Linked DNA regions of Homo sapiens. The protein of the gene in region 1 interacts with the protein of each later gene in a biochemical or structural test. Each region holds a gene or a part of one and is shown on either strand. Other genes may lie near its edges. The genes, in order: SIRPA, INPP5D, HSP90B1 and IGF1R.

Region 1 (7,035 bases):
CTGAAAAGCTGTTCTCCCATCTGGCACCCCAAGAGGACCATCTTTTCCAACTTGTCCTCCGTGACCTCTGGGTGTCTATCCCAGGGGTTTTCAGTCCTGACTCTGTATTAGAATCTTCTGGATTAATTAAAAACTTTAGATGCCTAGGCCCATGCCAGGCCAATTGAAGAGGCATTTCTGTGGTGGAGCCTGGGATTTATTTCAATGTTTCCCAGATGATCCTAAAGAGCAGCCAAGATTGAAAACTACCTGAGTACATCCTAAGGACCATTTATCCTTGAGGCCTGGAGGAGCACTAACCCATCTGAGGTTGCATGGCTTCAGCATCACACAGCTCACATCTGTTGAACATTGACTGCAGGCCAGGCGCCTGCTGCCCTAAGCACGCTACAGGATTTAACTCATTCGGTCCCAACTCCTGGTCTGTGAGGTTGGTGTTATCACTGACAAGTGAGGACACTGAGGCCCATGGTGGTGGAGTGCCTTGTCCCAGGTCACAGAGCCAGGAGGTGGCAGAGCTGGGATGTGGCCCAGGCAGTTGGACTCTGGCCACACTCTCCTAACCACACTTCTGCAGGAGCTCAGTGATAACCCGAACACCGCCACCATTCCGAGGCTCTGTACATCCTCTCCAATCCTCACAGAACCTGTGAGGGTTGGCAATCATCATCATCATTTCATAGACAGGGAAGCTGAGGACTCAAGGGAAGCCAGGATTTGCCCAAGATCACATGACCTTGGGAAAACCCCATTGCTTACTAAGGTCTATCGTCGCCCCAGGCTCATTGCATCCTCATAACATCCTGGAAAGGTTGGTACAATTATCGACGTTCTACGCATGGGGAAACTGAGGCTCAGCAAGGGGAACTGGGTTGCCCAAGGTAACACATCTTAAAATAACACCTTGATGGCAGGGCGCAGTGGCTCACACCTGTAATCCCAGCACTTTGGGAGGCCGAGGTGGGGGGATCACCTGAGGTCAGGAGTTTGGGACCAGCCGGGCCAACATGATGAAACCATGTCTCTACTAAAAATACAAAAAAAAAAAAAAAAAAAAAAAGCTGGTGTGGTGGTGGGTGCCCCTGTAATCCCAGCTACTTGGGAGGTTGAAGCAGAATCGCTTGAACCCAGGAGGTGGAGGTTGCAGTGAGCCGAGATGGTGCCATTGCACTCCAGCCTGGGCAACAAGAGTGAAACTCCATCTCAAAAAAAAAGAAAAAACAAACAAACAAACAAAAAACCTTGATTTGGGGGTGTCTACTCTGCATTGGGTGTTTTATACACAGGAACTCAAATCCTTTCCACTCTGCCAAAGGAGTCCCTGATTATCACCATTCTACAGATGAGGAAACTGAGGCTGAGAAAAGCGAAGGCACTGTCTCCTCATCCCTCATGTACCCAATGGGCATTTCCAGTGTTCCCCAAGCTCTCATGTCAATCAATTGAGCAAGTGCCTGAACTTCATGAACCCTGACACTGACCACCACCTTCCCTTTTTCCCTTTGAGATCCCTGACTTCATGCAGTTCTAGGGAGAAGCCTCCCTCCAGGGTACCCAGATCTGGTTACCCTATAGCCATAAACTGAAGTCAGTGGGCTCCTGACAGCCTGAGGGGATAATATAAACTCTTGCTCCAATGAGCCCCAAGCACCCACCAGGAAATGCCTCATCTCCTCATCCTTAGTCCTCAGCACCGTGAGTAGGTGGGCACGTGGTCTGCTGGGCTGCAGGAGGCCCAACTCTGCTCCATGGATGCTACTCAGTGATGTGCTGAGACCTGTCCTTTAGGAACAAGTTCCCATATCATGAGACATCTGCAGGACCTTTCTGATGGGGGCCAGTCCCTCCTACTCCCATAGGACTTGTTTTGTTTTTTCTTTCAAGACAGAATCTTGCTCTATCACCCAGGCTGGAGTACAGTGGTGCGATCTCGGCTCACTGTAATCTCCGTCTCCTGGGTTCAAGCATTCTCCTGCCTCAGCCTATGCTTATTGCTATAGAACTGCAAGAGTTTGGAATGAGTAGGGTGGAGCATTTCTCCACACTTTGACAAGCATAGCTGAGTGTTACAGAGACAGGGGCTGTGAGTCAGGCTGGTGGGGATCAAACCTTGGCTCCCCCACTGGCTCACCACACAGGTCTCCTCTCTGAGCCTCAGAGTCCTTATCTGTAAAGGGGGCAAGAAATGGCTCTTCCTTCATAAGTACTTGTTATAAAAGGAGAAAGTGCCAGGATGAGGATCCAATCCAGCTGCTGCTCCCTGGCCCCCTCCCACCTCCCTCCTTTCTCATCCAGGGCATCATTTAGGCTGACAGCATGGCAAAGAGGAGTGAGCACTCTGCTAGGAGTCAGCAGATCTGGGTCACACCTGAGCCACGTATTTGCTGTGATTGTCTAGGCACGAGATGCATCATCTGGGAACTTCAACGTCTTTTCCTGTAACATCTGCACAATCAGGATAAAGCCACCCTCCCTGCCTATGTCCAGCGGTTGTGGGGAGACTTGATTGTTATAATGTCTAGGAGGGAAATTAGGCCATATCCACACACATTAAAACACACACCCCCTCTGATCTAGCAATGGCACTTGCAGTGGGCGTCTCCCACCTGAGTAAGGTCACACATGTATAAGGTCATCCACTGCAGGACTGTTTTAATAGTTCAAGTTTGGGGACAAGTTACGTATCCATCAATGGAAGATGGTAAAATAAATCTGGTATTTCCATAAGCTGGAGTATTCTGTAGCTATTACACAATGGAGCAGGTCTCTATCCTGATATGAAATCTCAGTATCAAATGATATGGCTTACATTTGGGAGCGGTTTTCCAATCACCAGTGGGCCTAACGGTCTGAATGTGAATATTCTGAACCTTTAGGAAACTGATGGAAAGGAGAAGTGCTGGCTTCCTGCTTAGCAGTTCTGTTCAAGGAGCTTTCAGTCGGCACCTATGATGCACCAGGCTCTTCTATGTAAACAATGGCTAATGAAGGAGCCTCCCTGGAATCAGATGTGGGCTCTGGTCCAGATCCTGTCACTAACTGGGCCTATGACTGTGGACAAGGCCCCTGTCATCTCCTGACTTCAAGTTTCCACCTGTAACTAGGGGTTGGGCTGGATGGTCTGAGGGTCCTTCCTGTACTAATGTCCCAGGATTCGGAGTTAGAACAAGGATCCTGGGGCTCTGGCAGTAAATACAAAATGAGCATCTTTGCTGCCTTAACGGAGGAACCCAAAGTCACCTAGAAGGGAGACCTCCTCCCTGGGGTGAGAGACATTCTATGATGACCCAGCTTTGTTCAGAGCCTTTAGTGACGCATGAATCAGTCCCTAAATCACACAAGTGTTTTTCTAAAAGACCCACAGAAAATGCCCAACCCTCTGGCTTCTCCTCTCACCAGGGCCATCAGATTAAACAGTAAATCTGTGCCTTTTAGGAATCTTCTCAGTTGGTGTTTGGTGATGAAATAAAGGAAACACACCCTCTCTGCTCCCTGCCCTGGGTGGATCTCTTATTGGAAGGGATGAGAACACAAGCTTGGCGGAGCCTGGCACACAGTAGGTTCTCAGTGAGTGCCTGTCACATAGAGGAGACTCGGCTGCCCTGAGAGGGAAGTGCTCTCTGGAGGCAGCAGGTGAGGTCTGGTCCTGTGCCTGGGCAAGTCACACTATCTGTCAGTTTCCTCATCTGTGGAATGAAAGGGCTGGGTCAGCTTTGAAGAGGCCAGGGCTACACAGCCAGGCAGATGAAGGATGCAGATGTTCCCACCCTTTACCAGCTGTGGAGCCTTCAGCAAATAGCATGACGTCTTCAGGCCTCAACTTCCCTTATTTGTAAAAGGGGGAGACATCAATTCATGGAAAGGAGCACCTACCACCACACCTGATCATTGCTCAAAGAATGGAGGGTGTTATTATTGAGTTACTGTCACAAACCAGAGGCAAAGGAGGCCCACGCTGTACTCACCGCGCACAGACAGCTCAGTGCCTGCTCCAGACTTAAACTCCACGTCATCGGGGCTCCCTTTCCGGAACTTCACACAGTAGTAGGTGCCGGCATCTGCTGGGGTGATGTTACCGATGCGGATGGAAAAGTCCATGTTGTTTCTCTTTGTGAGGTCTGAAACAGTTGTTACCCGGGGGAAGTGGCCTTCTTTTTGATTGTAGATTAATTCCCGGCCTGGTCCAGCTCCTCTGAACCACTGGATGGGCCCCACAGGGATCAGAGAGGTCGCAGTGCAGCGCAGAGTGGCTGTCTCTCCAGCTGCAACCAACACGGACTTGTCAGGCTGAATCACCTGCAGCTCCTCCTCACCCGCCACTCCTGGAAAGGAGCACAAAGCAGTCATTTTTTCATCCTTACGTGATCCTCTGTGTTTCCTCAAGTGTTTATCAATGACGTTCATTGACTGGATGCACACCAGAAGCAGGCTGTGAGATCAGTATAGTGCATGTATCATCTCATTTGACCCTCACAACAAACCTGCAACATGAGCCTGTATTCTAAGTGGGGACACTGAGGCACAGAAAGCTAAATGACATGGCAGAGAGTGGGTTTGAATGCCTGGACCCTCTCTGGAAGAGTCACATCTGAGCTGGGCTAATTCTAATCTGAATGAGCCAGAAGGGAGCCTGGTATTCCAGACAGAGGGAACAGCCTGGGCAAAGACTCAGAGGTAGGGGCCTGGCATATCTGGGGCTGTACAAGGTGTTAAGATTCTGTTTCTGGCCTGGCCCAGGATGCAGGCCCCGAGAAGGGAGGCTGTACTCAGCGGTTTGGGCAGTAGGAGAATGTAGTTTGAGTTCTGGATCAGTGGCCTATAGCTGTGTCCTTGGGCCACCACTCAGGTAACCAAGAATATCCAATGTAGACTCGTGCCAGTGTGTTTGAGTCCCCACCTGGAACCCAGGACTGAGCCTGGCTAGCAAAGTGTCACACAAATGCAAGAGCTGCCCTTAGTTTGCCCTTACTGCTCTCAGCCTTGGTTTCTTCATCTGTAAAATAGTTACTATGACCCCACCTCGATGGATCTCTGGGAGGATAAAATAAGCCAAGGCTGGGGACAGCGTCCAAATGCAGCATCTGGTCTTTAGAGTCATCGGACCTGGTTTGAAACCTGGCTCGCCCCTTGTTCTTGTGGGACCTTAATTTATCCATCAGTTTTGAGTCTCAGTTTTCTTATCTACAGGATGGGTAGAACAGCCCCCAGGCCTCTGCTTTGTTCTGAAAAGAAAACGAGATCACACATAGAAGTCACTTAGCCCTGAGATGGGCCCTGAGGAAGTTGTTGTTACTATACATTGAATAAACAAGGAGGTGGCTGTGGCTCAAACTTCACTCTCACCAACACCTGCTGATGCCCTGTGATCCAGGCCTCACTGTGATGGGGACACACTGGAGCTGGACCCAGTCCAGGCCTCAAGGGCTCCCAAATGGGCAGCTGGAAGGAATTGTAGAGGTTGGCTGCAGGAGCCTGAGCCCCAATCAGAGACACTGGGGCACACAAGACAGGGACCCTGGGTGGAGAGATTGGGGTGCACGGGGGGAGCCCAGACAGGAAGAGGGCAGGACGAGCTTGTCATGAGATGCGTTGAAGATGGATAGGGACCAAGTGAGAACAGTTCAGAGCAAGGCAGAGCCAGGGCCTCGATTCTGAACAAGGTGAGGTACAAGAAACAAAAAAAAGAAAGATCATGATCATAAAGACCTCAGAGAAACACATGCCTGAGAGACAGACGCAGAGTGAGAGAGCGAGCTAGAATAGGGGAGAAGGAGAGAACCAGGTAGACAGAGGAGTGGCAGCTACCTGGTATGCAGGTGACAGGTGACCTGGGGCCCCAGTTGGGCTCTCCACTGACCCTTCATGTGACCTTGTCCTGCCCTGACCTGGGCCACCTTTGCCTTGTACATCAGACAAGGCTGCGGCAGATGTCCAGAGCTGCTGTGCCCCTCTGGCTCTGGCTGGGGAGGAGAGAGACCCTGTGAATTTGCCCACCAACCCATGGCCTGGCACCACCCCACTGGCAGGGGCAGGGCAGCCAGGGAAAGAGGCTCACAGACCCCTATCTGCCCTCACTGCAGGAAGCCCAGGGCTATCTGCCCATTGTCCTGCCTCTTTCTCCCATTCCCAGCCTCACCCAGTCTTGACTCTGGCAAGGGATCACCCTTGGGGCCCGGTTCTCATGGCAGGTGAGTGGAGTCTCAGAGTGCCTAAGACCACTCCACCTGCTTTGGGTGTAAATATTACCATTTCGACTTCCTTTTCCTGATCAACCACTTAAGACCTCAACTGCTTTTATTATCAGGAAGTCCAGCTTCTCATTTCATTTCCATTTGAAGTTGAACATGGCAAGATCTTCATGGCACAGGAGAAAAAAACAGAACCCACAGTGGACAGACAGAACCCACAGTGGACAGAGGCCCAGCCAGCATCAGACGGCCTGAGAGGGGTGAGGCTGGTGGCCAAATGTGTGGGAGGCCCGGGAGGCCCATCCAGGCGGGGACATCAGAGGCAGCACCAGCAGCACTGAGCTAGGAACTTTCCGGATAGGTCTGTATTTCAGCCTCGAGACTGGACCAACTGGAAAGGCTGCCTCGGGGAAGCACAGTTGCTAGGGCCAGCAGGCCTGGGTGACAGCATGGCTCCCCTCTTAGCCACCTCTGTACCCACCTTCCCTGGACCCCCATTCCATCATCCATGAAGTGGGGTTCCGGCATCCACCCCAGCACAGTCATGAGGACCCTGACACGGTGGTATGCCTGCTGCATAGGTGCTGGGTAAGTTTTAATTCTTATTCCCATTATTATCACATAGCTGTATTATTCACATATTTGATTTTCTCTGGATTGTCACATTCCCAATAGTAGGATGTAGGATCCACAAGGGACTGTTTCCAACCTCCTGCCTAAAACACAGTGTCATCGATAAAAATATGCAGAATGAATGCGGTAATGAATGAAGGAAGGAAGGATGTCGTTGGCTCCATGACCCTGGGCAAATCTCCTCTCTCTTCATGTGTTAGGTGGAGTTGATACT
Region 2 (7,035 bases), on another chromosome or scaffold:
ACTCCTTCAGCCACTTCGTTGCTTATAAAAGTTCCATTGTTTATAAGTATCACATTTATCTACTCTACTGTTAATGGACATAGGGTTGTTTTCAGTTTTGAAGATTACAAACAAGGCTGCCATAAACATTCATTTTTTTTTTTTTTTTTTTTTTTGAGATGGAGTCTCGCCCTGTTGCTGAGGTTGGAGTGCAGTGGCATGGTCTCGGCTCACCACCATCTCCACCTCCCAGGTTCCAGTGATTCTCCTGCCTCAGCCTCCCGAGTAGCTGGGATTACAGGCGCCCATCAGCATGCCCGGCTAATTTTGTATAGAGACGGGTTTCGCGGTGTTGGCCAGACTGGTCTGGAACTCCTGACTTCAGGTGATTCACCTGCTTTGGCCTCCCAAAGCTCTGGGATTATAGGCGTGAGCCACCATGCCCGGCTAAACATTCTTATACCTATTTTTGGTGAACAAATATACAAATTTCTCTTGAACACACACCAAAGCGGAATTACTGAATCATAGAATAGGTGCATTTTTAGTTTTCATTGATTCTGCCTAACAGTTAGTTAAGTCCTTTTTTTTTTTTTTTTTTTGAGACAGGGTCTCACTCTGTTGCCCAGGCTGGAGTGCAGTGGGGCAATCTCAGCTCACTGCAACCTCTGTCTGCCGGATTCAAACAATTCTCCTGACTCAGCCTTCTGAGTAGCTGGGATCACAGGAGTGCGCCACCACACCTGGCTAATTTTTGTATTTTCAGTAGAGATGGGGTTTCGCCATGTTGGCCAGGCTGGTCTCAAACTCCTGGCCTCAAATGATTTACCTGCCTCAGCTCCCAAAGTGTTGGGAATACAGGCATGAGCCACTGTGCCCAGCCTAAACAGTTACTTCTTAACATTGCAGTTCTCGGCATCAGCTGCCTCTGAGAATTACCCGTGGGGCTCCACAAATAGTCATGTACCACAGTAATGGACTGCATATAGGACAGAGGTCCTACAAAATTATAATGGAGCTGGAAAATCCCCATCACGTAGTGCTGCTGTAGCTGTCATCACGTCACAGCGCAACACATTACTCACATGCTTCTGGGGATGCTGGTGCAAACCAGCCCACTGCACTGCCAGCTGTGTAAAAGCATAACAGTACAATTCTGTTCAGTACATAATATTTGATAATGATAAACAACTGTCACTCATTTCCGTGTTTACGATATTATTTATCATTAGAGTGTATTCCTACTTATAAGAAAATGTTAACTATAAAATAGCCTCAGGCAGGTCCTTCAGGAGGTAACCAGAAGAAGACATTGTCATCATAGGAGACGACAGCTCCATGTTATTGCCCCGAGGACCTTCCATGGGATGAGATGTGGAGGTGGGTGATAATGTCATTGACCATCCTGAGCCTGTTTCAGCCTAGGCTAATGTGTGCATTTATGGTTTTTGTTTTTGTTTTTTTTTTTGAGACGGAGCCTTGCTCCAGGCAGGAGTGCAGTGGCGCCATCTCGGTTCGCTGCAACCTCTGCTTCCAGGTTTCAAGCGATTCTCCTGTCTCAGTCTCCCAAGTAGCTGGGATTACAGGTGCACACCACTACGCCTAGCTAATTTTTGTATTTTTAGTAGAGACAAGAGTTTTGCCATGTTGGCCAGGCTGGTCTCGACCTCTTGACCTCAGGTGACTCACCCACCTCGGTCTCCCAAAATGCTGGGATTACAGGCATAAGCCACGGTGCCCAGCCTACGTCTTAATTTTCAACAAAAAAGTCAATGTAAATGAGAGTTTTGAAATTTTAAAACTTGAAAAAAAGCTTATAGATTAAGAATATAAAGAAATAAAATATTTCTGTACAGCTGTACAATGTGTTTGTATTTTAAGCTACATTTTATTACAAAAGCGTCAAAAATTAAATTGTTTATAAATAAAAAGCTTATAAATAAAAAATTACAGTAAGCTAAGGTTAGTTTATTATTGGAAAAAGAAAATTTAAAAAATAAATGTAGGGTAGCCTAAGTGTACAGTGTTTGTAAGGTCTACAGCAGTGCATAGTAATGTCCTAGGCCTTCGCACTCATTCACCACTCACTCACTGACTCACCCAGAGCAACTTCCAAGCCTGCAAGCTTCATTCATGGTAAGTGCCCTATACAGGTGTACCACCTTCTTTTTTTTTTTTTTTTTTTGAGACACAGTCTTGCTCTGTCACCCAGGCTGGCATGCAATGGCGCGATCTCGGCTCACTGCAACTTCCATCTCCCGGGTTCAAGCGATTCTCTTGCCTCAGCCTCCCGAGTAGCTGGGGTTACAGGCGTGTACCGCCATGCATGGCTAATTTTTGTATTTTTAGTAGAGACAAGGTTTCACCGTGTTGGCCAGGCTGGCCTTGAACTCCTAACCTCAAGTGATCCACCCACCTCGGCCTCCCAAAGTGCTGGGATTATAGGCATGAGCCGCTGCCCCCAGCCCATTTTTTTCTTTTTATACCATATTTTTACTGTACCTTTTTAATGTTTAGATACACAAAAACTTATTGTGTTACAGTTGCCCACAGTATTCAGTAAAGTAACATGCTATACGGGTTTGTAGCCTAGGATCAATAGGCCACACCATCTAACTGAAGTGGGCTTTGTGTATACACACTTCATGAGGTTCCCACAATGACGAAGTCACCTAATGACACGCTTCTCGGAACATATCCCCGTTGTTAAGCGACGCATCGCTATTTTCAGCTGCCTTCTGGGTATTTTCTCTGGGTTCTTCCACTGATGTCACACAATCAGTAAGTCTGAAAACAAGTTCTATTTTTTTCCCCTTCAAGCCAGCTCCGCCTTGTGATTTTCCAGTTTTTATCAATGGCAATCAGGTCTCGCAATATATCCTGATTTCCCCCTTTCTTTCATTTTCACTGTTTTTTCCCTGATTCGGCCCTAGCTGTTGCTCAGCTGAATGTGCACAACGGCCTCCTCACCGATGCCCCTGCCGCGTCCTCATCCTTTACCACAATGCCCACCACAATTCTGCACATGCCACTCTGATGCACCAGTGCCCGGCAGAGCTTGCAGTGGCCCCCTGTGGCCTGTCATCCTGGCATCTAGGACCGGCCACTCTCCCATCTCAGGCCCTCCTCTGCCTCAACTTAAACTCACATCAAAGCAAACCATCCTTCACCAGCCTGCACAGGGATCCCCAAGGACCTGCTCTGACAGTGCCTTTGGGCCAGGTGACCTTATCCACACAGCAGGCAGTGGACCCTGCGGAATGGGGTGTCCCATCCTGGGGGTCCCAGCCTCGTGGGTGACAGCAGTCCGGGATCTCCTCCTGTCCTCTCAGTTGTATTCTCTTCCTCTCCTGCTCTGTTCTAAAATCCACCCAGCGCTTGGCCTTCCTCTCCCACGTCCAGTTCTTCACTTTCTCCTGAGCCCAGATGGGGCCCAGAACTCTTTCAGATGACACTTTGAACTTGCGCTCCATTGCCCTAGGCTTCTAGTGGGCCTGGGTACCTCACCGTCCCAGCCATTTGACCCTTGAATCCTGCCAGGGGCTGGCTTCCCTGATCCTTCCCTGCCCTGGCATTGTCACATTCTGGCTCTGGCTACAGCTAGTTGCATATCTGTTTTTCCTACTGTGAAGTCCCTGGAAAAGACATCTTTGCTCTCCCATCACCTAGGAGAGTGCCTAACCCATAATAGGCCATCAGGAAATATCTTTGAACAAATGAATACATATTTTATTGCATCTTTCCCCAAAACACTGTTCCTTGGAAAACAAGTGGCCTCATAAGACATTAATTGGTGTTCCATGAATAACTGAGTTTGGCATACAGATTTCCTCATGGAGAACCACAGTGCTCTTGGGCCCATAAAAGCTCTGATAAGTCCTGCAGCGAAGAAACCTGCTTAATGTTAATTCACTCAGCAGTTTAGTAAATATATTTGATCACGGGACTTTAAAAAAATGATCTTCAGAACCCAGTTAAGGAAATAATACTTTAAAGTCCTCTCAGCATCTTAGAGTATCTGGACAGAAGGTAAATCACAAGGGTTATTTTCCCAGCTCAAAGCAGTGCACAAGTGTGGCTTCCCATTTACTCTGTAACACAAATCAACATGTGCTTTCTAATTTTTTTCTTTCCTTTTTTTTTTGCCTAATGGATGAAGACACTTTCTGTTCACCTTTTGGGAACAGACACCAGCGGGGAGGAGATGGAGGGCAGGGAAGGTGTCTATGAAGAGGACTCACCCCTGTCGCTTTCTGCTTGGTGTAGGCGTATTTGTCCCGAGTCAGTCTCTCAAAACGGTAGGTTGGGGCAAACGTGATTTCTTCCTCCTCTGAAACAGAGAGACTTTCGTTTTAATTCTGATTCCCCAGGTTTTGCATCTGGCCAATTTTCCCTATTCTTCTGGTAGGAAATCAGGGGAAAGGGGACGAAAGGATGGCTGGAAAGGCTCCAAGAGGAGAGGCTGCTGCTTTTTTTTTTTTTTTTTTTGAGACGGAGTCTGTCTTTGTTGGCCAGGCTGGAGTGCAGTGGCGCGATCTTGGCTCACTGCAAGCTCTGCCTCCCTGGTTCACACCATCCTCCTGCCTCAGCCTCCCAAGTAGCTGGGACTACAGGCACCCGCCACCACACCCGGCTAATTTTTTGTATTTTTTTAAGTAGAGACGGGGTTTCACTGTGTTAGCCAGGATGGTCTCCATCTCCTGATCTCGTGATCCGCCCGCCTCGGCCTCCTAAAGTGCTGGGATTACAGGTGTGAGCCACCGCTCCCAGCCGGGGTTGCTGCTCTTACCGAAGTGTAGGAAGACCTTCTGCTCCCTCCTCTCTGTGAGCAGCTGGTCGTGGGACAGGAGGTCTGCGTACTGCTGCTGCTTGATTTTCTGGATGATGGTTTCTGCCTCCTGGAACAAGAACATGCCCGGGCCTCTGGTGAGAAGCCCTGCTGATCCAGGCCTGACAAGCTTCGGGGCTGGGGGCGGGCAGCTGGATGACCCGGGCTGCAGAGTGATGGTGGCAGGGTGGCTGTGACAGTTATGGGAACCGGGTGTGAGCACAGGGGAACCGTGAGGAGCGGCTGAGGCTCAGTAATGGAAACAGCGTTGAGCCCCCAAGGGGAGCAGCCGCCTCAGCCCACTTGATTCACATGTCTCCACGACCACCTGCCCCAAGCTGACTCAAGGGAGCCTCCATCTCATACAGCCCCAGCCCCAGCCCCAGGCGGGCAGCCCTTACCCAGGTAGGCAGATCCACACGGTAGTTAAGATCCCCAAACCAGAAGAGGTGCGTGAAGCGGTGAGTGATGTTAAAGGGACTCAGCTTCTTGTCGCCCAGGGCCAGGAACCGGAGAATGTTCATATAGTTTTGGTTTCGCCTAATGCAAGGAAAAAGCGGCCATCTAGCACGGGGTCACTGGTTCCCCCTCCACTGTGGCAGGAAGTCACTCCTGCCATAGGTGTGGGGCGAGGAGCATAGCAGGTGGGGGGAAGTGAGACTTAGCCCTCCAGCCCTGCTGCAGCAGAACTCCTTAGTGTGCAAATATGGCACAGCCAGGATGCAAAGGGCATTTGAGGCCACATTGGGTGTACAGAGGGCAGGGGACCAGGAGCAGCAGCATCTGCTCAGCAGAGAATCAGAACAGTGAAGATTCTAGATGGCTGTCTTCATTCCTGGGCCCCAGCTAGGCAAGATCAGCTTGGATTTGTAAGGAGGCCCCAGAGGAGGCTTTCTGCTTTAGAAACAGTGCTAGTTAGCGGTCCATCAGGCTAATGACACAAGGAAATATCTTTTCTGACCTTCAGACAAAATTCCTCCACACGTGAGGTCACTATGGTGCTGCAGTTGCCTTTGATGAGACTGTGGTGGGCCCTGAAAGGCCACAGGACATCCACAAGGTCAAAGGCAGGAGCTGAGCAGGTCCTTCTGGTGCTTAAAGGTGTGAGGCGTGTCTGGGCAGACAGCCCAAATGCACACTCTTGGGGGGAAGGAGTTCCATTACCTGAGTTTCTTTTCACTTCCTGAAGTCAAGTGGCTGTTGACGAACCCTAAGGAGGTTCCATTGAACATGAACGACACCCCCACGGCTCCCTTGTTCCCTAAAAAGAAGAGCAGAAAGAAGAATCAAAATATCAAACAGACACACTTGCCAAGGGGCCAGAAATCACCCGAAGGCAGGGTGAGAGGGGCAGTGAGTGAGGAGCTGGCAAGGGATGGGCGAAACAGGGTCGTGCAGGGTGGGAGCCGCTGGGCAGAGAGCGGGAGATGAGAAAATGCAGGAGCAGTGCAGATGGCGGCAGCCTCAGCCTTCTCGGCGGGGCAGAGGAAGGTGGCTGCTGCGATCCTCCCCCGGCATCTCTCTCTAAAGTGACCAGGGTGCTAAGCGGGCAGCCAGAAGCCCTGGGAAGATTCAGAAGGTTCCAGCCTGGGTGGGCTGATCTCCCTCCCAGTGAACTCAAGTTTCCTGGGGAGACCAAAAACCCACACTGAGATCATACCTTTTTCTGCCAACGTTCTGATCTATTCTAGGTCAGTGGTTCCCAAAGGGAGTTCCCTGGACCAGCAGCTGCACATCACCTGGGAACTTCATGGAAGGGCAGATTCTCAGCCCCACCCCAGACCTACTGAATCTGAAATCCTGGGATGGGGCCCAGTAATCTGTGTTTGACAAGCCCTCCAGTGTCAGGGGTGGGCAAATGCTGGCTCACTGCCAGCTACAAATGGTTTTACATTTGTAAATGGTTGGAAACAAATCAAAAGAAAAACCATCTTTTGTCATTCATGAAAATACGAAATTCAAATTTCAGTGTTCGTAAAGAACACGTTACTGGAACACAGCCATGCCTATTGACTTCTGGATTGTCTGTAGCTGCTTTCAGACTACGATGGCAGAGCTGAAGCATTGTGACAGTTGTGTGGCCCAAAGAGCCTAGAATATTCACCATCTGGCCTTCTATGGAAAACGCTTGTTAACCCCTGCTCTAGGTGATTCTGACACATGCAGGTGAGAACCTGCTCTGTCCAATACAGGCACAGGCCACATGTGACTATCAAACACCTGAAATG
Region 3 (7,000 bases), on another chromosome or scaffold:
ATTATAATTAAAGGCTCAGCCTGAAAACAGAGCTCTCCTTTACAACTCATTGGCCATTTATAACTCATTGGCCAAAACTAGTCACATGGCCTTAGCCATTCTTAAATGGAAAGTAGAGTACTCCTAAGTTTCTGGAAGGCAGACAGCCAGGAATATTGAGTGAAGAATATTAATGATCCATCACAGATTCCAAATAGAGGAATCATTCAAGTTGTTTTGTATTCTAGTAAAGAAATAGGCAAGACATAAAATTTTATTTTTCTTGAATTGTTTTCCTTCAAAGGTAACTTGTTTTATTTAGGTCAGCCTCTAACCTTTGACATTTAGGCCAGTCTGCCCATTTGATATTAATACTTTCTCAAATACATAAATTACTTTAAGATGTACACTTTCAGAAAAGGCCATAAAAAACTATGTGGAGGAAAATATCTCAGTTTAGTTTTCTGTATTGGAATTGATGGGACCCAAAGCTGGTTAGTTCCTCAATATTTGTTTGGCATAATGTAAATATTAAATACAACTATCTGGTTCTTGTCTTGCATTTAGTGTGATAAGGAGAAGAACCTGCTGCATGTCACAGACACCGGTGTAGGAATGACCAGAGAAGAGTTGGTTAAAAACCTTGGTACCATAGCCAAATCTGGGACAAGCGAGTTTTTAAACAAAATGACTGAAGCACAGGAAGATGGCCAGTCAACTTCTGAATTGATTGGCCAGTTTGGTGTCGGTTTCTATTCCGCCTTCCTTGTAGCAGATAAGGTTATTGTCACTTCAAAACACAACAACGATACCCAGCACATCTGGGAGTCTGACTCCAATGAATTTTCTGTAATTGCTGACCCAAGAGGAAACACTCTAGGACGGGGAACGACAATTACGTGAGTATGACCAATTCCTTATAAGAATTAATAGTCATGGTGAGGATCTTGACTCTCCAGTTCTATTCTCTGAGCAAATGACTTATTCTGGGCCTTAATTTTCCTGCCTTATAAAATGAGGAAACAGAACTGTTGTCACTTGAAGAAATGTTTGAGGACCTGCAAAGGGCCAGGCACAAAGGTTTGTGATTGCTGTTGTACATGGAGGGTATAAAGTAGGAAATAGCAGCAGCTTCCCCAAGGGAGAAGGCTTCTTGGGTACCCACAGAGGAGGCACTGCTTGGTCAGTTTCCCAGGTTAGAAGAGTAATTTGTCTGTGGAGCATCCTGAATAAAGGCATGGAGGCATAGCATGCTCACTAGATGAACAGAGTTCTTTTCGGTGGCAGTTATGGATAGAATGTGATGAACTTTTATTTATTTATTTATTTTGAGACGGAGTCTCACTCTTGTTGCCCAGGCTGGAGTGCAATGGCACAATCTTGGCTCACCACAACCTCCGCTTCCTGGGTTCAAGCAATTCTCCTGCCTCAGCCTCCCAAGTAGCTGGGATTACAGGCATGTGCCACCACGCCCAGCTAATTTTGTATTTTTAGTAGAGATGGGGTGTCTCCATGTTGGCCAGGCTGGTCTCGAACTCCCGACCTCACGTGATCCACCCACCTCGGCCTCCCAAAGTGCTGGGATTACAAGCATGAGCTACCGTGCCCAGCCAGAATGTGATGAACTTTTTAAGATTCTCAAGGTGGTGTGGAGGATGTGAGGAGTGGACAAGGGGAGACTCTTTGGGGGAAATATTCCTCTTGAAAATATTCAAGATGAGTGGTAGCAACCAGGGCTGGGGCTGGCTTGTAGAGATAAAGGGCTTAAAGAAAGTTCATGAAAGTTGTGAAAGCTGTGGAATAAAATACGTCATTTAAGGATAGTTACAAGTTTTTAAATTTGAATTAAGATCCCTCTTAAGCCAGTAACTGTTGTTTGTATGGGTGAGACAGAGCCAGTGCCCTACAGTAGCTCTCGTTGCTTATAGCACTGTGACGTAGACAGGGCAGCTTTTTGCCTTTTTAAAATTTTACCATCTTGGAGATGAGGAAATTCTATTTCAGAGGTCAGTTGGCTTGCCAACTCCTGCTAAGTGAGTAACAGAATGTGCCCACAGCTTCAATTTTTTTTTCTTAATTCAGTTTTAAGTTTTCTTAACATTAAGGGAAAGAAGCACATACTTATCATTGTGACCAACTTTCTTCATCCTAGAAAGTAACATTTCCTGTTTTTACTGCAGCAGATGTTCTTTTAATGAAGACTAATTAGATGACTGCATTTTAGTACTTTTTTAACTTGTGTTCCCAATTTACCTTCCCCTGCCTTCGTCACTAACATTGATGTCTCCAGGTTTCATTTGGAGGCATCACTAAGAGTTATGCCCCAGTGCCCTCTCTTTTTAAGCACTGGGCTAGATGTTGGAGAAGGATAGGGCAATCATTCCCAAGGAAAGATAGAAAGTGATGTCCCAAGAGATGTTAATGTCAGGTTGCTAAGAAGCAGGTGAAATTATCTGGATATAAGCTCCATGAAGGCAAACATTTTGTTGGAAGCTCCATTCCCAAAGCTTAACACTTAATTGGCAGCCATTTGTATGAATAAGTGAGGTTAAACAGGACAGTTCCATGCAGGGAACGATGGCTGCTAACACCTATCCAGGACCTAGTTTCCATGACCATGCATATCTTTTTAAAAATTTCCTTTGCCCACTTCTTAAATGTTAACATACATTTTCTCCAAGTTAAGTTTCAGCCCTTTTCTCATTGTCCATGTGATCTTTATGTAGTCTTATCCACTGCCACGGCCTCAGGTTCCATCTCTAGTTCTCAAATTTATATTCTTAGCCTAGATCAGGAGTTAGCAAACTTTTTCTTAAAAGAGCCAGCTAGTAGAAAAAAAGATAAAAGAAAACAACAAGAAAGAAAGAGCCAGCTAGTAAATATTTTTAGCTTGTGAGCTATATGGTCTGTCACATGTCCCAACTCTGTTTAGCTTGAAAGCAGGCATAGACAATACATAAGGATGTGTCCCAGCCAAGTGTGGTGGCTCATCCCTATAATCCCAGCACCTCGGGAGGCTGAGGTGGGAGGATCACTTGAACCCAGGAGTTTGAGGTCAGCCTGGACAACATAATGGGATCCCATCTCCACAAAAATAAAAAATAAAAAATTAGCTTGGCACAGTGGTGCATGCCTGTAGTCCCAGCTACTCAGGAGGCTGAGGTAGGAGGATTGCTTGAGCCTGGCAGGTCAAGGCTGCAGTGAGCCATCATCACGCCTGGGTGACAGAGGTCCAAAAAAAAAAAAAAAAAAAAAAGTGTCCCAATAAAATTTCTAATGGGTGCCAGCTGTACAGCTATAGCTTGCCAGCCCCTTGTCTAGGTCTCACTACTGGGCTCTGTGTTCATGTGTTTAATTGCCTTTTAAATGCTTCTACCTAAGATATCTAACCAGCAGCTTCTACTTGCATCCAAAACTGAACTCTTAATCCCCAAATCACTAGAACATGTGCTCTGAGACCAGGGGCCTAGTCACTCACTAGGCTTTGTCATATCATGGCTACTTATTGGCCAGGTACCACTAAACTAATGAGCCTTTTGAGACAGGGAGGGAACCATAGATAGACCATTTCCCATACTTAATTGGGAACACAAGTATCAAGATATGGACTACCTACTGTGCTTAAGAGTAGGTTCTAGGCCGGGCACAGTGGCTCACACCTGTAATCCCCGCACTGCCCGGTAGAATTTTATATAATAGTAGAAATGTTCTATATCTGCACTTTTCCATTTTGGCGATCACCAGCCACATGTGACTGTTGAGTACTTGGAATGTGGCAGCATAACTGGAACTGAACTGTACATTTTATTTAAATAAGTCACATGTGCCCAGTGGCTGCCATTTTGGATAGTGCAGATATAAATATAAACCAGATTAATTTTCTAGCTTTTTTAAGGAAAATGTTTTCATTAATTAGGAATAGTTATCTACAATAATCATTAGGTTTCTGGAATAACAGTAAGAGCTATGAGAGTGCATGATTCCATTTCTCTCCAGAATATTTCAGTGCTTTCTCACCTTGAAAAATGAAAACAATCTATTCAGACGGTTGGGAATATTTTAATTTTCTACTTAAAACTAAGGTTATTCTCCACTTGAGGTAATGTAGAGGAGATTCTTCTCTTTACTGTATCTACATGTGTTACATTTTAGCTCACAAACCCTTGTTGGTGATGGAGAGTTAACATGAATAATTAGGACATCTTGGATTATACTGAACTGCTGGCTATTACCATGGTATTTAAATGAATTTATAATCAGATCTTCTAAATGTTAGGTGTCTCTAAACATCGAATTTTTCTTGCAGCCTTGTCTTAAAAGAAGAAGCATCTGATTACCTTGAATTGGATACAATTAAAAATCTCGTCAAAAAATATTCACAGTTCATAAACTTTCCTATTTATGTATGGAGCAGCAAGGTAAATCTATATTGATTAAAAACTTATATGTATTACCTTGGCACGTATTTAAATATTCAACACTAAAAGAATGAAGGCAGGCCGGCGCGGTGGCTCATGCTTGTAATCCCCGCACTTTGGGAGGCCGAGACAGGTGGATCACCTGAGGTCAGGAGTTCGAGACCAGCCTGGCCAACATGGCGAAACCCTGTCTCTACTAAAAATACAAAAATGTTAGCTGGGTGTGTGGTAGCACACGCCTGTAATCCCAGCTACTCGGGAGGCTGAAGCAGGAGAATTGCTTGAACCCGGGAGACGGAGGTTGCAGTGAGCCAAGATCGCCCCACTGCACTCCAGCCTAGGTGACAAAGCAAGACTCTGTCTCAAAAAAAAAAAAAAAGAATGAAGGCAAAATGTGGTCTATTAGTTAAGGATACTCTCAGGGTTTTCTTACAAAAACCTATTTTTTGACCTGTAATGTTATATCATATTCTGTAGACAAAATCAGAATTGTTAAACAAATGAGTTTAACCATAATTCTCTTATTTCAACAGACTGAAACTGTTGAGGAGCCCATGGAGGAAGAAGAAGCAGCCAAAGAAGAGAAAGAAGAATCTGATGATGAAGCTGCAGTAGAGGAAGAAGAAGAAGAAAAGAAACCAAAGACTAAAAAAGTAAGTCTGGTTTATCTCCCTGCATAAGATATTGTTTAACATGTATAGGCAAAACCAGGAAAACCTAAGTATGCACTGGCTGATTTGAAGTCAGCTTCAGTTCAGGTGCTAAGTCCATGGAGCCAGCTTTTAAAATAAGGCCTTTGTTTGTATGTTGAATACATTGTCCTGTAGAAAGTTTTAAGTATCAAACCCAGGTCATTTTTATGAAGAGTTTTCTAACTTTTATATATTGCCTAGGACTGGTGGCTTATATGTTTGGAATTTTAAAATCTTAAAAAGCCTTCTGAGTCCTCTTTTGTCTTTTTATCATGCAGAGATTAACCATAAAAATGGTTCTCTGGCTTGCTTAGGTAGCAGACTAAGAAGTATTGATCATGGTGGTTGAGAAATATTTTTGTAAAATGTTGGATTTCTTTAAGTCATGAAATGGGAATATATAATATGTATTTCCTTCTAACCTCAAAACAAATATTTTCAAGAAACATTTTTGCTAGTTAAAAAATAACAATGAAGAAAAACTTAAGTGGCTTTTCATCAGTTAACAATTGTCTTTTTGAATTAAATATTGAGAAAAATACTTTGCTTTTGATACAGTTGGCAGAAACCTTACTAGATAACAGGTATCCTTTGGTGCCCTTTTTTTTTTTTTCTTTAATTTGGAGACAGAGTCTCTGCCACCCAGGCTGGAGTGTGGTAGCACGATCATAGCTCCCTTCATCCTTGAACTCCTAGGCTTAAGCAGTCCTTTCACCTCAGCCTCCCAAGTAGCTAGGACCACAGACACACGCCACCATGACTGGCTAAGTTTTAAAAATTTTTTGTATAGTTGGAGGTCTTGCTATGTTGCCTGGACTGGTCTTGAACTCCTAGGCTCAAACAGTTCTCCTACCCTAACCTCCCAAAGTGCTAGGATTACAGGCGTGAGCCACCACACCAGTCCTCTGGGTCTTTACATAGTCTTTTGAAATCTACTGAAGCCATGGTTACTGCTAGGATAACCTTGGTGAGTGCTGAGAGAGACTAATCAAATACTATAATAACTTCAGGTTGAAAAAACTGTCTGGGACTGGGAACTTATGAATGATATCAAACCAATATGGCAGAGACCATCAAAAGAAGTAGAAGAAGATGAATACAAAGCTTTCTACAAATCATTTTCAAAGGTAAATATTTATAATTCCCTAGTTTCTGGTTATTAATGAATAGACAAAATATCACCCTCTTAGTTTAATTGTATATGGTATGTGACCATGAATATGAGATGGTCCATTCCCATTTTTTCCCAGTGAGAAAATTCAAAAAAAGACCTTTAGGCCAACTATAATATGTCTACTTCTGGTTTATTGACCTAGTCACAATTAAAATCACATTTATGAACCTTTGAGATTGACACCTCAGTAGAGATGGTCTTTGAGAGTAATTGGTTTCCAGAACACACCATTTTTACTTAAGTTGAATTATTATACTCATCACTACTTCAAAATTGCAGCAGTTATTAAAATTAGTCCTAGCTCTTAGTGAATAGTGAAACTACAAAATCAAGAATGTTTGAAACAGTTTTATGGCTGTTTAAACACAATTGGTTTCCTTTTTATTCCTGTGTATTTTGTAATATGTGATTTTTTTAAAAAAATTATTTTGAGAAGGCATCTGTAGCCTTCACCAGCTTGCCAAGGGTTTTGTGTGACAAAAAAAGATTAAGAACCACCTACATAGGTAGATGTGTGATTTCCACCACAAAACCCGTAAAACATGAAATCATGTTGTTAAGTGGCTTTTAATATAATCTTTAAAGAGCTTGCTTATGACATCAAACACTTATTGTGAGATCCTATGCCTGGGAATAATTACTAAATTTATGTTTCCTTGCCTGTTTTTTTTTTTCTTCTTCTTTTATTGATCCCTTCTTGTAACTCTTAAGGATGCAAAACTAGCATTGATAAAGTT
Region 4 (7,035 bases), on another chromosome or scaffold:
TTTTACAGATCCACCTGGAACTTGGAAATTATTTCAATTTAAAAAACCTATTCTATTTCCTCACAATTTTTCTGACTTTGGTTTTCTAAACCTGTTAGAAAAGGTTTTCATTCTGTTGTTTAGTGAGAAAAGGAGAAATGTCTCCCCCAAATATTTTTAAGTCTCCGCATTTCTATCAAGACTCAGAAAAGTTAATAACTTTAGGACCAAAGAACTAATTGGCAGCTAAGGAGAAACTAAAGCTATGGTGACCTTCCTGTGTTCTTAAGCGGCACTTTCTGCTATTCAGTATTGAGGATGGAAGGAGAAGTAGCAGAGTAGTGAAGAGGAAAAACATTCTCAGCTATGGAAACAGCAGAAGCAAAAACTTGAAGACAGGCATAACACAGCTTCCTTTCCATCAAGCTAATGCACAGATGCTGGGGAGTACCAGGAACTAACAGTGGATCCCTACAGCACAGGATTACTAAGGACCTGTTTCATTACTTGATTCTAAGGACCCTGGACTTGATCCTAGGACCACAAGAGGCACGTTCTGAGTATTTGGAGCTGGCAAGTCCATCAGACTAAGGGAATGGTACAGGAACTGGTTCAGAGGCCAACTCAGCATGTAGTCAGAGTCAATGCAGGTCTGCACTGGACCAGGCTGGATCCCGGAATAGGGGTCAATCTGAGCGATTTCAAGTGACTCAGTGAGATCGAAAGGCAACATTCAATTAATGAGTCTCCCCAGAAAAGGACAGGCTGCAGAACTGAAACTGAACAAATTCCATCCTGAGCCAATCTCTGTTGCTGAAAATTTTACTGAGGTGCATGTGAGAAAGAAAATCCCAATTGTATCACCTGACGAAGAAAGGCTACCATAACAAAAGTTCTGTACCTACGACTACACGATATCATGTTGTGACCTAACATATGCAGTGAACTCATTATCCACAGAAATCAGACAACAGAACTAAGGGAAGCCTCACAGCAGATCTCCCTCTGCTGCTACTGGTCTCTGTGTTCATTTGTTTTCGTGGCAATCTGTGCTTCTCTTTAAAGTCCTGAGTCTGTAAGCTTGTGTATTATCCCACTAAAATGAGACTCAGGGAAATTAGGTAAAGAGAATAAATACAGGACAACACAGATAAATGTGGACACAACTGAGAGGGATTTTACAATCTAGACAGAATTAATAGCTAATGACTTAGAAAACACTTTGTAAGCTGATGCAGTCAATTGGATCATGGGCTCCTACCTGGAATTTCTCTCCATGCTTCCTACTTTTTCCAGGAAGTTATCAAAGGTCACTAAGACGCTTTGAATTTGGGGAAAACTCCTACAAATAAATTCATCTCTCCCTAATTACCATTAGACTTCTGTTCTTTAAAGTTCTATTGACTAAACTTTGGCTGACTTAAATTGGTGATGTCTCATTTACGTAATCAAGCACATATTCCCAATAACCAACTTTACAGAGACTAACCACGACTATATTTTTTACAGCAGAGGACAAGCTGAAAGCAATCACAATGTATCAGGAAAAATTTCAAGTTATGCTCTATAAAATATTTATGCTCTAACAACTATCAAAATATATTTGTTCTCCCATGTCAAGAGTAATTTTTAAAGTGGTATTTATTTTTAAACTGACAAATAATTCCAAAGCCAGTTTGAGAAAGCTAGTGCCATGTTAAAAAGAAAATGGTTGAACAAAAGTATACAAAACAGCAACAACAATGTATTTCAAACTCGCAGAATTTGGACGATGGACGGATGGATGGAGATACACAATTCTGAACAAACGGCATTCGTATTATGTAACTCTTACTGAAGTAGAGACCTATGGTATTAAGGGGGCTAAGACTGAGGAGTGAGATAAAACAAAGTTTCAAACTCCTCCCCGCAAGAACTTTCTGGATTAGCAAGACTACTTTCTAAAGTCTTTAAAATATGCAAAAAAACAAAAAAAAAATGTTTTCCAGACTATTACCAGGTGAGCAATTTATTTTTATATATGTATTTTGTGTGTGTGATGGAGTCTCGCTCTGTCACCCAGGCTGGAGTGCAGTGGCATCATCTTGGCTCACTGCAACCTCTGCCTCCTGGGTTTCAGCAATTCTCCTGCCTCAGCCTCTCACGTAGCTGGGATTATAGGCACGGGCCACCACGCCCGGTTAATTCTGGTATTTTTAGTAGAAAGGGGGTGCACCATGTTGGCCAGGCTGGTCTTGAACTTCTGACCTCAAGTGATCTGCCCACCTTGGCCTCCCAAAGTGCTGGGGTTACAGGCAGGAGCCGCTGTGCCCAGCCAGGTGAGCAGTAAGGTAGGCCCAGCTATCGCTGCAGTGTGTGATGGCCCCATCCACAGGTGTGCACATCTTCCCCATGTGACTAGCCAGCCGCCCCACTACTCCAAAGAATGTGAATGCTTCAAGACCACCAACCACCAAGTGAGCTCCATGGACACAAGGCCCAACAACTTATATTGCAATCGTAGGTGTTCATCCCTCACCATAAAAGAAACTACTTTCTGTTGTGGTCCAGTGAAAACAGAAGAGCAATCTATGAGTTTACAAATTCTTGTAGGCTGGGGGCGGTGGCTCGCACCTGTGATCCCAGCCCTCCGGGAGGCCGAGGTGAGTGGATCGCTTGAGTCCAACCTGAGCAACATAGCAAAACCTCGTCTGTACTAAAAATACAAAAAATTAGCCAGGCATGGTGGTGTGTGCCTGTAGTCCCACCTACTTGGGAGGATCACTGGAGCCTGGGAGGTCAAGGCAGAATCAAGCCGTGATCACACCACTGCATTCCAGCCTAGGTGACCAGAGACCCTGTCTCAAAAAAAAAAAAGAAAAAAAAATCTGTAGTCCAGGGCAGGAAAAAGAAAAATTTTAAGCTTGCTTACTAGTTTGTTTCGTTTTATTTTTTTTTTTAATAAACATGGCAGTAACATCTATAGTTTGACGGGTATCTTTAAAAACTTATGGTAAGACATTTTACAGTATCAAATAATTTCTAAACCTAAAGAACTGCATCCAGTAAGTACTCAACATGTATTTACTGTGGAAGAAAAGAGGGAGGGAAAACGACTATTTCTCAGTTCAAGTAAGGAAATATCAGTTTTTCCTTAAGATTTGAAAATAAAACATAAGTAAAGCCGGCATCAGTGGAAAAAAAGGGAGAGAAATCTTCAAAAATGGTATCTGGGACTTTCAAACGAGTAAAATTGACCATTTAAAAACTTAGTCTTCAAAAGTCCAAAAGTCTCAAAATCAAAGGTATTGTTAATACTTTGAGTCAAATAAAACCAAAGCAATTTAACAAAAGAAAACATCATGCCGAGGAAGTATGCTTCTCTTGAGATAACAATCTAACTTGTTTTAAAGATCCTTTGTTTACTAACCATTTTATATTCCAAATATATGTTCCTTCCTCAGAACAAATCAATTCTTTTCCAGACCCTCGGGGATGGGGGTGCAGGCATGAGGGGATGTGTACATATATCAAAGTTTTAATCTTTTCAAATAGTGGAACTCAGTTATGCTTCCCAAATGTCAACAGGTCTCAATGTCCACAAACACTGGGGCTGCTACCCTCCCCCATCCCCACTTAAAGCCACATCACATCTTTACAAATAACTGGAAAACCTCCTCTTGCTAAGCTGATGCCAAACACCATTTTCCAGGAGGGATCAGAGTGCATCACTCATTAGGCACTTTGTTGTCTCTAAAGTGTTCAGAATTTTCCTTCAGAACATCTCAGACTGGAAATCAAGAAACTATATCCGTAACATGTGTGCAACTATTATATATTTAGTACAATTGAGAAGAGCTCATCCCCTGGACTCAGCACCTGTCCTAAGCTGGCTAAGAAAAGCAGTTCAAATCAAGTTCGCCCACAGGCGCAAATACCTCTTCCATGAACTAGGTCTGATTTTTAAATGAGTTTTGAAAACAAATTGGGGAAAATCACAACCTATAAAGAAATGTATCTTGTATGCTTTACAATTAAAAAACAAAAACTTTCAGGATTTGTCTCCTCACTCTTACTCCCTCACGCTTTTAAAAACACCAAGTTATTTACAAATTATAAAATGCCCTGAAATTATGAATGCTTCCTGATTTCTAGAAAGCTAACTAAGCAATATGTAATCCAGAAAACTTCTGAAATAAGTTCCATCTTTCTTACAACTCAAAACATGCTATGCAACGTTCATGTACACACCTGTGACTCCTAATTTTTGGAAAAAGGCAACTACAACACTGCAGTTTGTAAATCACAATTGCCATATCCAATGTTATAAAGAAGACAGTGCCGCCAGTCAAGATGGGTTAACATCACCTGTATGTCACAGTCTACAGTGACATCCCAATATAACGGAAAGCACCAATGAGGCAAAAAAGGTATAGGGTAAAGGCTTCTGATGAACAACACTAGAGTCCTAAGTCTACAGAAATATTTTTAAAAGAACCTTTAAAATGCTAACTACTGTCTACTTGAAAACTGCACCCTATACTGAGTCTGAAAAAAAATCTGAATTTCAAGAAAGGTGGTTTCATGCAAGACTCTGCAGGTTCATGCACTGAGTAGCACAAGGTCAGCTTTCATACAGTAGGTGCACAATAAGTGCAGGCTGGATTCAGTTGCTTCTTACAGCACATTCTTACAAAACAAATGAAACCAGATTTAAAAGGAAACCACCGTCCCTTGAGGGTTCCTCTTGGCAAAAACTCTAAGGCAACAAGTGAAAATGATACAGTTGATTTTCATTACTGCCCTGATCTTGCAACAATAGGAAGGGCAGGAAACATTTTTATTAGTAAACTAAGCCTTAGACAAAGACCAAAAGCAAATGTAAACAACAATTATTCTCTAGGTCTTTTCCTATTGAAAGGCCAGGGTAAATCTGGATAAATGCACACAGTTTCAAAACAAAAATGCCTTTGCCACATTTTAAAACCTTTCGTTCTGTAAGGAATTTTAATTTTATAAAAATCACTGTATACTTGAAACAGTGTATCCTAAAACTACTGCATCCTAAAGATTCTTTCTCCTGCTCAGACCCTGGAACTATGTAAGAAATAAAATAAAACTGCAAAGAAAAGAAACAACAATACTGCATTAAAATGAACTGTTCTGTTCATCCTCAGTCCTTACTACCACTTGTGGTCAATGTGGCATATCAAAAAATGAGTGTTTAAAACATCTTAAAACAGCAATGTCTTTCTTTGTTGGAAAACATAATAAAACTGGAAATACAAACAGCCCTTCAGACTCAGCTCCTAAACTCTATCCTGAAAAAAACCATCATTTCAGATTCAGCTGAGGTTTCTATTGTCAAAAATCTGCCCTCCACCAGCATTTGTGTTTTTTAAATCCAGCTCCTCAATCCCTAACTGAAGCTACATAGAACCAAGATTCTTTTTCTCCTGCTTGCCCATTTCTACTGCGGGATTGAATCCCTGTTGCTAAGCTTCAATTATCAGTTTGTTGTATTGCTGCAACTCACGGATCTGAAAAACTCATAAATGAAAAGAGAGAGAGACATCAGCCTGTCAAATGTATGTAATAATTTTAACGTAATTTAAGGTAGCATAACAAGTTATTTTCAACCTGATCACATTTCTTTAAAAAAAAAAAAAAGGGTTTATTGAGATATAATTCACATACCATTAAAGTCCCCGATTTAAAGTACATAATCCAATGGTTTTAAGTATATTTAGAGCTATGCAGCCATCGCCACAAACTAATTTTAGAACAATTTTCATCACCCCAAAAAGAAACCCTGTGCCCACCAGCAGTCACTCCCCATTCCATCCGCCCCCAGCCCCTGGCAACCACTCATCTACCTTCTGCCTCTATGGATTTGTTTATTCTAGACATTTCACATAAACCGGATCATACGATATGTGGTCTTTTGTGACTGACTTCTTTCACTTTTTGTGATATTTTTAAGCTTCATCTATTCAACCTTAGCATATTTCTTAGAGTTGAACTTTTCTAATCTTTTTCGACAAATCAAACATTATGACCTTTTACATTTCAAATCCTGACACAAACCCCACCCTTCCACAAAACACCATTTGCTTGCTATGTCTCTCCAGAGGATCTAAACTATAATTTGCTGTTTAGGTTCTTTCAGAAGTTCTTTTTCTGGGTTCTCCTTCTGGTAATAAAACACTAACTTCTTTAAACACCAACATTTCACATACCTACATTTCTGTGACAACAGGATGCCTGGGGTAGAAAGATGACTGAATCCTTTTAAGGAGATGGGTACAATAAATTTAAAGTGCATGCTGACTTTTTAAAAACAAAATAGCCCTCAGATTATCTGGCTATCACTCAGAACCTCCGAACCGCCTTCATTTAGATGCTCTGTTCACATTATGGTGATACAAAACAAACACATCCATATGACTGCCTCTGCTTCAGAAACTAAGTTTTCTAAGATAAACAACACTCTTTCTACTGCCATCACACTCAAAGAGGAAACTCTAATCTCTCAATACGCCAGCAAAATACCTGCAACTGAACCAACACCCTGTCTTTATTTCTCCACCAGACAACAGCTGAAAGAACGCCCTCCCTGATAGGGCTCAGCAGCTTATTTCTATCAGAGTTAAGTGGTCTAGCACCTTCCCGGCTAAAAACTGAACGCCCGTTCACAGGCATAGCTTTTAATTCTCCACATTTCAGAGATGGAGGGAGGGGCAGGTACTGAGTCAGTCAAGACTTCAGCAAACCATAATCGAGATTTGGGGTGCCTTCTGACCACCCATCAGGTTTCCAGGAACTAACCACTGTAAAGGGATCCTGGGGGGAAGCTTTGGTATCATGGAGTAAAAACATACATTAAAACACCCCCTCCCTCCTGCCTGTGTTCTCAAAAATCGCCGTCTTGCACAAAGAATATCCTTCAAGAAGAACGCTCCAAAAGAAAAACAGCCTATTTTAAAATGCCCGACTCCTGCGTCGGCGAAGGCCATCCCTGCTGTTTTGAATTTCAGAACATTAAAAACACAAAACTAGAGAAGCTATACAGTTCAA

What was found.
Region 2: the proteins of SIRPA (region 1) and INPP5D interact in a biophysical measurement, tested with the Homo sapiens proteins (one study listed by IntAct).
Region 3: the proteins of SIRPA (region 1) and HSP90B1 form a complex in vitro, tested with the Homo sapiens proteins (one study listed by BioGRID).
Region 4: of the proteins of SIRPA (region 1) and IGF1R, one has a biochemical effect on the other in vitro, tested with the Homo sapiens proteins (one study listed by BioGRID).

The regions. Positions count from the first base shown.
Region 1 is NC_000020.11:1,912,386-1,919,420, reverse strand, and holds part of SIRPA (tyrosine-protein phosphatase non-receptor type substrate 1 isoform 1 precursor), read right to left. Parts: exon of another isoform or gene 5,099-7,035; coding exon of another isoform or gene 5,020-5,098; intron 4,323-5,019; coding exon 3,966-4,322; intron 1-3,965. UniProt on the Homo sapiens protein: Immunoglobulin-like cell surface receptor for CD47. Acts as docking protein and induces translocation of PTPN6, PTPN11 and other binding partners from the cytosol to the plasma membrane.
Region 2 is NC_000002.12:233,168,338-233,175,372, reverse strand, and holds part of INPP5D (phosphatidylinositol 3,4,5-trisphosphate 5-phosphatase 1), read right to left. Parts: intron 6,069-7,035; coding exon 5,972-6,068; intron 5,348-5,971; coding exon 5,209-5,347; intron 4,878-5,208; coding exon 4,769-4,877; intron 4,310-4,768; coding exon 4,221-4,309; intron 1-4,220. UniProt on the Homo sapiens protein: Phosphatidylinositol (PtdIns) phosphatase that specifically hydrolyzes the 5-phosphate of phosphatidylinositol-3,4,5-trisphosphate (PtdIns(3,4,5)P3) to produce PtdIns(3,4)P2, thereby negatively regulating the PI3K (phosphoinositide 3-kinase) pathways.
Region 3 is NC_000012.12:103,933,410-103,940,409, forward strand, and holds part of HSP90B1 (endoplasmin precursor), read left to right. Parts: intron 1-546; coding exon 547-878; intron 879-4,285; coding exon 4,286-4,397; intron 4,398-4,930; coding exon 4,931-5,050; intron 5,051-6,099; coding exon 6,100-6,216; intron 6,217-7,000.
Region 4 is NC_000015.10:98,651,528-98,658,562, reverse strand, and holds part of IGF1R (insulin-like growth factor 1 receptor isoform 1 precursor), read right to left. Parts: intron 1-7,035. UniProt on the Homo sapiens protein: Receptor tyrosine kinase which mediates actions of insulin-like growth factor 1 (IGF1). Binds IGF1 with high affinity and IGF2 and insulin (INS) with a lower affinity. The activated IGF1R is involved in cell growth and survival control.